Linked DNA regions of Homo sapiens. The protein of the gene in region 1 interacts with the protein of each later gene in a biochemical or structural test. Each region holds a gene or a part of one and is shown in the gene's direction. Other genes may lie near its edges. The genes, in order: BRAF and NANOG.

What was found.
Region 2: of the proteins of BRAF (region 1) and NANOG, one has a biochemical effect on the other in vitro, tested with the Homo sapiens proteins (one study listed by BioGRID).

Annotation. Positions count from the first base shown.
Region 1 is NC_000007.14:140,732,665-140,736,485, reverse strand, and holds part of BRAF (serine/threonine-protein kinase B-raf), read left to right. Parts: intron 1-1,715; coding exon 1,716-1,889; 3' UTR 1,890-3,821. UniProt on the Homo sapiens protein: Protein kinase involved in the transduction of mitogenic signals from the cell membrane to the nucleus. Phosphorylates MAP2K1, and thereby activates the MAP kinase signal transduction pathway. Phosphorylates PFKFB2.
Region 2 is NC_000012.12:7,795,756-7,799,576, forward strand, and holds the end of NANOG (homeobox protein NANOG), read left to right. Parts: 3' UTR 1-3,391; downstream 3,392-3,821. UniProt on the Homo sapiens protein: Transcription regulator involved in inner cell mass and embryonic stem (ES) cells proliferation and self-renewal. Imposes pluripotency on ES cells and prevents their differentiation towards extraembryonic endoderm and trophectoderm lineages.

The DNA of each region.
Region 1 (3,821 bases):
ATTGCACTCCAGCCTGGGCAACAAGAGTGAAATTCCATCTCCAAAAAAAAAAAGTGGTGTTCAGGTGGGCCTTGTTTTCATGTATGTATTTTTATACATAAAAAAAGGTACTGAAGAGGCCAGGCGCAGTGACTCACACCTGTAATCCCAGCACTTTGGGAGGCCAAGGTGGGTGGATCAGTTGAGGTTAGGAGTTCGAGACCAGCCTGGGCAAAATGGTGATACCCGTCTCTACTAAAAATACAAAATTATCCGGGCGTGGTGGCACACGCCTGTGATCCCAGCTACTCGGGAGGCTGAGGCAGGAGAATCGCTTGAACCTGGGAGGCGGAGGTTGCAGTGAGCTGAGATCGCGCCACTGCACTCCAGCCTGGACAATAGAGTGAGACTCCATCTCAAAAAAAAAAAAAAAAGGTACAGAAGAAAGTATAGACTCTAACAGTGGTTATCCCTGGAGAGCAGGATTTGAGAGCCTTATACTCTTTATACATTTCTATAGTATTTTAATTTTTATTTGCATGTTATACTTGGAATTTACAATTTTTTGCAACTGCTTACTTCTTTGTCTTATACTAATCATCATAAAGATTACTTTTTAAAAAAAATTTAACTTTTAAAAACAATTTTCAGCCAGGCATGGTGGCTCATGTCTGTAATCCCAGCCCTTTGGGAGGCCGAGGCAGGCAGATCACCTGAGGTCAGGAGTTTGAGACCAGCCTGGCCAACGTGGTGAAACCCTGTCTCTGCTAAAAATACAAAAATTTAGCTGGGCATGGTGGTGCGCTCCTGTAATCCCAGCTACTCAGGAGGCTGAGGCAGGAGAATCGCTTGAACCCAGGAGGGGGAGGTTGCAGTGAGCTGAGATTGTGCCACTGCACTCCAGCCTGGTTGACAACAGCGAGACTCCGTTTCAAAAAAAAAAAAAAATTGGTATCTCAGGACAATAACAAAAGTAATAATAATAGCTGCTAAGGTTTTATTGAGTGCTTATTATAGGCCAGGCATTATGCCAAGCCCTTTAAACATGTTTCATGATTATGAACATGCATTATCATGCTGTATGCCTTCAAGGATTATAACCTGTTTCTTTGTGCCTTAAAATTGTGAATTTCTGCATTTTATATATTGGGGTCTATTTGTCGAGTTCTCCTATCTTTGCTCTTGGGTTGTCCCCTGTCACTTCTCATGTGCTACTAGCACTCTGGGTCTGTGAGGTTCTGCTTTCAATTAGGTGTATGTAAAACATTTCCCATGGCTAGGTTTCTTTAAAGGGCAAGTAGCTGTGATAATTCTGTTTAGAGATAGTCATAAAGTGCTTTACTTATTTATACTCCATCTTCTTCCCAAAAGAGACTTGTGGTCTATAACAAAAAGGTATAAAATTGGTTTTAAATTTCTATTATTTACTGTTTCAAGACTAACAAATGATCTAAAATATAAATAAAAGCTGACTAAGAATTACTCTCCCCATTTAATTTACAGAGAGAGTTTCTTCTTAAGAAAAAATACCAATTATTTACAAATATTTTCCCAAGCATTTATGACAATGCTGAAAACAATGTAAGATTTCAGGTGCTTTCTTGTAAAGTGTGATGGGACTCTTAAAGATTTATACCACCCAGATTTTCATTCTTCTTTCTGTTTTTTCTTTTTCTTTCTTTCTTTTTTTTTCTTTTTTCTTTTTTTTTCTTTTTTTTTTCTTTTTTTTTTTGTAGATTCTCGCCTCTATTGAGCTGCTGGCCCGCTCATTGCCAAAAATTCACCGCAGTGCATCAGAACCCTCCTTGAATCGGGCTGGTTTCCAAACAGAGGATTTTAGTCTATATGCTTGTGCTTCTCCAAAAACACCCATCCAGGCAGGGGGATATGGTGCGTTTCCTGTCCACTGAAACAAATGAGTGAGAGAGTTCAGGAGAGTAGCAACAAAAGGAAAATAAATGAACATATGTTTGCTTATATGTTAAATTGAATAAAATACTCTCTTTTTTTTTAAGGTGAACCAAAGAACACTTGTGTGGTTAAAGACTAGATATAATTTTTCCCCAAACTAAAATTTATACTTAACATTGGATTTTTAACATCCAAGGGTTAAAATACATAGACATTGCTAAAAATTGGCAGAGCCTCTTCTAGAGGCTTTACTTTCTGTTCCGGGTTTGTATCATTCACTTGGTTATTTTAAGTAGTAAACTTCAGTTTCTCATGCAACTTTTGTTGCCAGCTATCACATGTCCACTAGGGACTCCAGAAGAAGACCCTACCTATGCCTGTGTTTGCAGGTGAGAAGTTGGCAGTCGGTTAGCCTGGGTTAGATAAGGCAAACTGAACAGATCTAATTTAGGAAGTCAGTAGAATTTAATAATTCTATTATTATTCTTAATAATTTTTCTATAACTATTTCTTTTTATAACAATTTGGAAAATGTGGATGTCTTTTATTTCCTTGAAGCAATAAACTAAGTTTCTTTTTATAAATTTTGAGTGCAGGTGACCAAAAATATTGCTGAGGAGTGGCACGTTTGACATGAGTAAAATGTCTTAACTTCGGATTTTTAGCGGGAAAATGTTATAAATTGGAGTTTCTTTTAAATAGCTTTTTTTAAAATACATTAAGGATGTCTCGCTCATGTAGAAGTCAAATTTTGTTGCAAACGCATTGCTCCCTTCACACCCAATCTCTCCCCTGCAAAAAATCTTCACAGAATTCTGTGAGAACTTTTAGGTGTGTTTTTCTTTGAGATACCTCTGGTTGCCAAACACCAGGTAATAGATTTTTTAAAGTTGTTATTAGATTATTCTTACCTCTCATGATGCATATTTTAGCAATCACCTTATCATTGTGTCTCATGTTCTGTCCTCCTTATATTCTTTGCCCAGCAAGATTCTACTTATGATGAATGAATGCTCTTCTCCTTTTTTCATTCAATGGTATGAAGTATTTGTTAGGGTTCTTTAGTACTTACACTTTGTTGTGTAGAAAATGACTGTAATGTGGTGGTCAGTGTATTCTTACTGTGATTCAGAGGGAATCAAAAGTAGAAAGCAACAGCACGTGGTCCTATCAAAGATTTGGCCATCTCTGCTTCACTGTCAGCCTCTTAACTATATCTTCACTTACTCAATTTGGTTTTGTCATGATTTTTAAATGTAGCCAATAGATCAAGGTTCTTCCAGTAAACACATATCTGCATAAATGCCTCCTTGAAGTCAATAAAGAAGGAAATTGAGAAGACTTTAAATTAATGATAATTTAGTTTTTAAGTACCCACAAATAAATTTTTGAAACATTTTCTTTATTTGAATACTTAGATGTCATCCAGGAAAATCACTCAATAATAATTACGGCAAATCTTTAACCCCTCATTTGGGTAGCTTAAGATAAGTAATGCCATTATGAATCAGAATTGATTCATGACTTTAGTTAAGAAAATGAAAAGGAACATTTCACGTATTTTTAAAAATGATACTAAGGAATAAAGAAGTACAACTATTGGAAAATATCTAAGTATATGATTTTTAAATCCTCCAGTGGCATTAAATATATGATTATTAGTAATTGTTAGATAGGGTTTTATTCATTCACAAATAGAAGACTAGCAAGCATGTAACTAACAAAGTTTTTACAAAATTGACTTTGTGGAATGCTCCAAATGTTTGGCCATTTTGAGGCACAAGGTCAGGGGTCTCTTTATTGATAGAGCTCCTTCTATAATTTCCCAGCATACCTGCCTCACAGTTATCTTCCTTTCATTGTTCACTCTCTTTTTCTTCTCAATGCCATCCTGCCTAGGCTCCCATCATCTGCATCTGACACCTTTCCTT
Region 2 (3,821 bases), on another chromosome or scaffold:
ATGTATTCGTATTGTTTGGGATTGGGAGGCTTTGCTTATTTTTTAAAAACTATTGAGGTAAAGGGTTAAGCTGTAACATACTTAATTGATTTCTTACCGTTTTTGGCTCTGTTTTGCTATATCCCCTAATTTGTTGGTTGTGCTAATCTTTGTAGAAAGAGGTCTCGTATTTGCTGCATCGTAATGACATGAGTACTGCTTTAGTTGGTTTAAGTTCAAATGAATGAAACAACTATTTTTCCTTTAGTTGATTTTACCCTGATTTCACCGAGTGTTTCAATGAGTAAATATACAGCTTAAACATAAATCTTTGTTAAATTTTTGGTTGGGGTGGAGAAGGAAATTAGCTGAGGACACTGCTATCTTAGAAATGCATAGAAATAGCTGAGCGTGGTGGCCTATGCCTGTAGTCCCAGCTATTTGGGAGGCTGAGGCAGGAGAATCGCTTGAACCTGGTAGGTGGAGGTTGTAGTGAGCCAATATCACACCACTGCACTCCAGCTTGGGCGACAAGAGCAAAACTCCCATCTCAAAAATAAATAAATAAATAAGTAAATAAATGAATAATAAATAAATATGCCAGTTTTAGAATGAATGAATAATAAATATGCCAGTTTTAGAAAAAAGGGCACTTACGTGCATTGTACATGTGCATCTACAAATGTAATGGGTTATTTCCGTGTATGAATCTGTAATTGATGCTAACATTTAAAGTTTCATCAGAGGCCTATATGTAAGTAAATTCTAAGGCTAGTTGAAACAGATTTATGTTCTCACCTTAAGAGCAGCTACGCAGGCATCTGTGAATTATACTAATAATCCTTTACTGTCCTTTTCCCATCTTGTGCCTGCCCTAAATGTATCTGATCTGAGAGCACGTCCCTTCACTCTGAAGCAGCATGATGCAGGTTATCAGAGTGGTTTTTTCCAGTCTTTTCTCTCATTATTTCCCCAATTGTCCAATGTTACTAAGACTATCCAGTCTAATTCCAAGTGTTTTTTTTTTGTTTTATTTTGTTTTTTTTTAAGACTGGAGTCTTACTCTGTTGCCCAGGCTGGAGTGTAGTGGAGCGATCTCGGCTCACCGCAACCTCCGCCTCCCGAGTTCAAGTGATTCTCCTGCCTCAGCCTCCCAAGTAGCTGGGACTACAGGGGTGAGCCACCATGCCCAGCTAATTGTATTTTTAGTAGAGACAGGGTTTCACTATGTTGGCCAGGCTGGTCTTGAACTCCTGACCTCATGATCCACCAGCCTTGGCCTCCCAAAGTGTTGGGATTACAGGCGTGAGCCACTGCGCCTGGCCTATCGTTTGTTTTTTTAGACAGTCTCTCTCTATTGCCCAGGCTGGAGTGCAGTGGCACAATCTTGGCTCACTGCAACCTCCGCCTCCTGGGTTCGAGCAATTCTCCTGCGTCAGCCTCCTAAGTAGCTGGGATTACAGGCACCCAACATTACACCCGGCTAATTTTTGGTATTTTTAGTAGAGATGGGGTTTCACCATGTTGGCCAGCCTGGTCTCGAACTCCTGACCTCAGGTGATCCACCTGACTCGGCCTCCCAAAGTGGTGGGATTATAGGTGTGAGCCACCGTGTCTGGGCAATTTTTTTTTTTTTTTTTGAGATGGAACTTCACTTTTGTTACTCAGGCTGGAGCACAATGATGCAATCTCTACTCACTGCAACCTGCACCTCCCAGGTTCAAGTGATTCTCTTGCCTCAGCCTTTCGAGTGGCTGGTATTACAGGGATTTGCCACTATGCCCAGCTAATTCTTTGTATTTAGTAGAGATGGGGTTTCACCGTATTGACCAGGCTGGTCTCGAACTCCTGACCTCAGGTAATCCACCCTCCTCGGTCTCCCAAAGTGCTAGGATTACAGGCATGAGCCACAGTGCCCAGCCTTCTTTTTTATTTTTTTAAGACGGGCTTATTCTGCTGCTCAGACTGGGGCTTAGTGGCACCATTTCACCTCACTGTAGCCTCGACTTCCCGGATTCAAGCAATCCTCCTGCCTGAGTCTCTCAAATAGCCCAGACTATAGGTGCACACCACCATGCCAGCTAACTTTTGTGTTTTTAGGAGAGACGGGGTTTCCCCATGTTGGCCTGGCTAGTCTCAAACTCCTGAGCTCAAGCAGTCTACCAGCCTTGGCCTCCCGAAGTGCTGAGATTACAGGCATGAGTCACCAGCCTAGCCCTGTATTATGTTTTCTGAACTTTTTTTTTTTTAATCACCCAGTATTAATCTTCAACCTCTTGGCAGGTAAGAATTTAGAGATCTATTTGGAATAATCTTTAAAGTAACAATAATAACTACAGTCAAAAGCAGTAAGATTAGTGGGCCAGGTGCCGTGGCTCACACCTGTAATCCCAGCACTTCGGGAGACCAAGGCAGGTGGATCACCTGAGGTCAGGAGTTCAAGTTTAGCATGGCCAATATGGCGAAACCCTGTCTCTACTAAAAATACAGAAATTTGCCAGAGGTCTTGGTTTGCGCCTGTAATCTCAGCTACTTGGAAGGCGGAGGCAGGATAATCACTTGAACCCGGGAGGTTGCAGTGACCCCAGATAATGCCACCCCACTCCAGCCTGGGCGACAGAGCGTCACTGTCTCAAAAATAAACAAAAATAATAGGAGATTAGGCAAAAAGGATAGTACAAGGCTCTCTGTTTAACATTTCTTCCTTTCTCTAGAAAATTTTCCTTTCTTTTCCCAAAAGGAGGTGTGTGTTACTTCCAATGCTATATTTTAGTAGCTTTACCATATTTTAGTTTTTAAAATTCATTATTTTGATTTCTCAGCTTTCATTTTCATTTCAGTTTGTACCTGAAGGAGAGAAGCATGGATTGAATTTGCCTGGGTTTTCCGAATTTCATAATATAAATTTAAAACTCAGAAGTGGGAGGAATACAGGCCTTGATTAGTGAATTTCAAGCTCAGTTCTCGGGGTGAAGGACAAGGTTAATTCTACTCTGAGTAATTCTACCGTTCAGAAAACCTGGTGTGTCTACAGGAAAAAATACAGGCTGTGACTACAAACCTAAAAGTAAAGGCAAACAACTGCCAGACAGAGGCAGGAAAGTGGGGGAGAGCCCTTGGTAAATATTGCATGCCTCCTGGGGCCCCCATGGGCTTTGACTCAAGGGGGAGATGAAGGGAATTTGTTAAAGAAAGAAGTCACTGGGACAGACAAAAGCTTCCGGCACAGGAAGTTAGTTCGACTAAGGATACCGAAATGTAGGAATTTGAATGGGTTCCTGGGTGTGAGGTTGAAGTGAAACTTGATTGAAAAGAAGCTGCTGGTGGTGAGTCTCTCCTTAAGCTATTCCTGGCTTCTGGGTAGTTGGTGTAAACTCTGTGGTCCTTGAATAAAGTGTGCTTGAGAATTTTAGAAGGTTAAGCATCTGAGAAATTACTTCAATGCAGTGGTAGCACTACCTCTGATGATACTACCAAGCAAACTATTAAGAAACAGAAAAGCTCACAGATCAAATTAAGATGCTAGAATCGTATTAAATCAATTAAATACATGGAACAAAACAGGCAAAAAGATGGGATACATTAATCCATTTAGGATAAGGTGCATGTGGAGTAGAAAGGGTAGCAGTGTTTACATGTCCTCTGATAACACTGGCGTAGTCACAAGAGCTAAGGACAAGAACCAAGGGTGAGAATTTGAGATTCAATTAGGGCCAGGGATCTGCAGAACAGATGTACCTGGAACATGGGTGTCAATGTGCTCTTATCAGAGAGACAAAGGGGCAGTTATTCCTGGCCACGAAAGTAGTTCTTGGCTCATTGAGCAGCTATGAAATCTATTT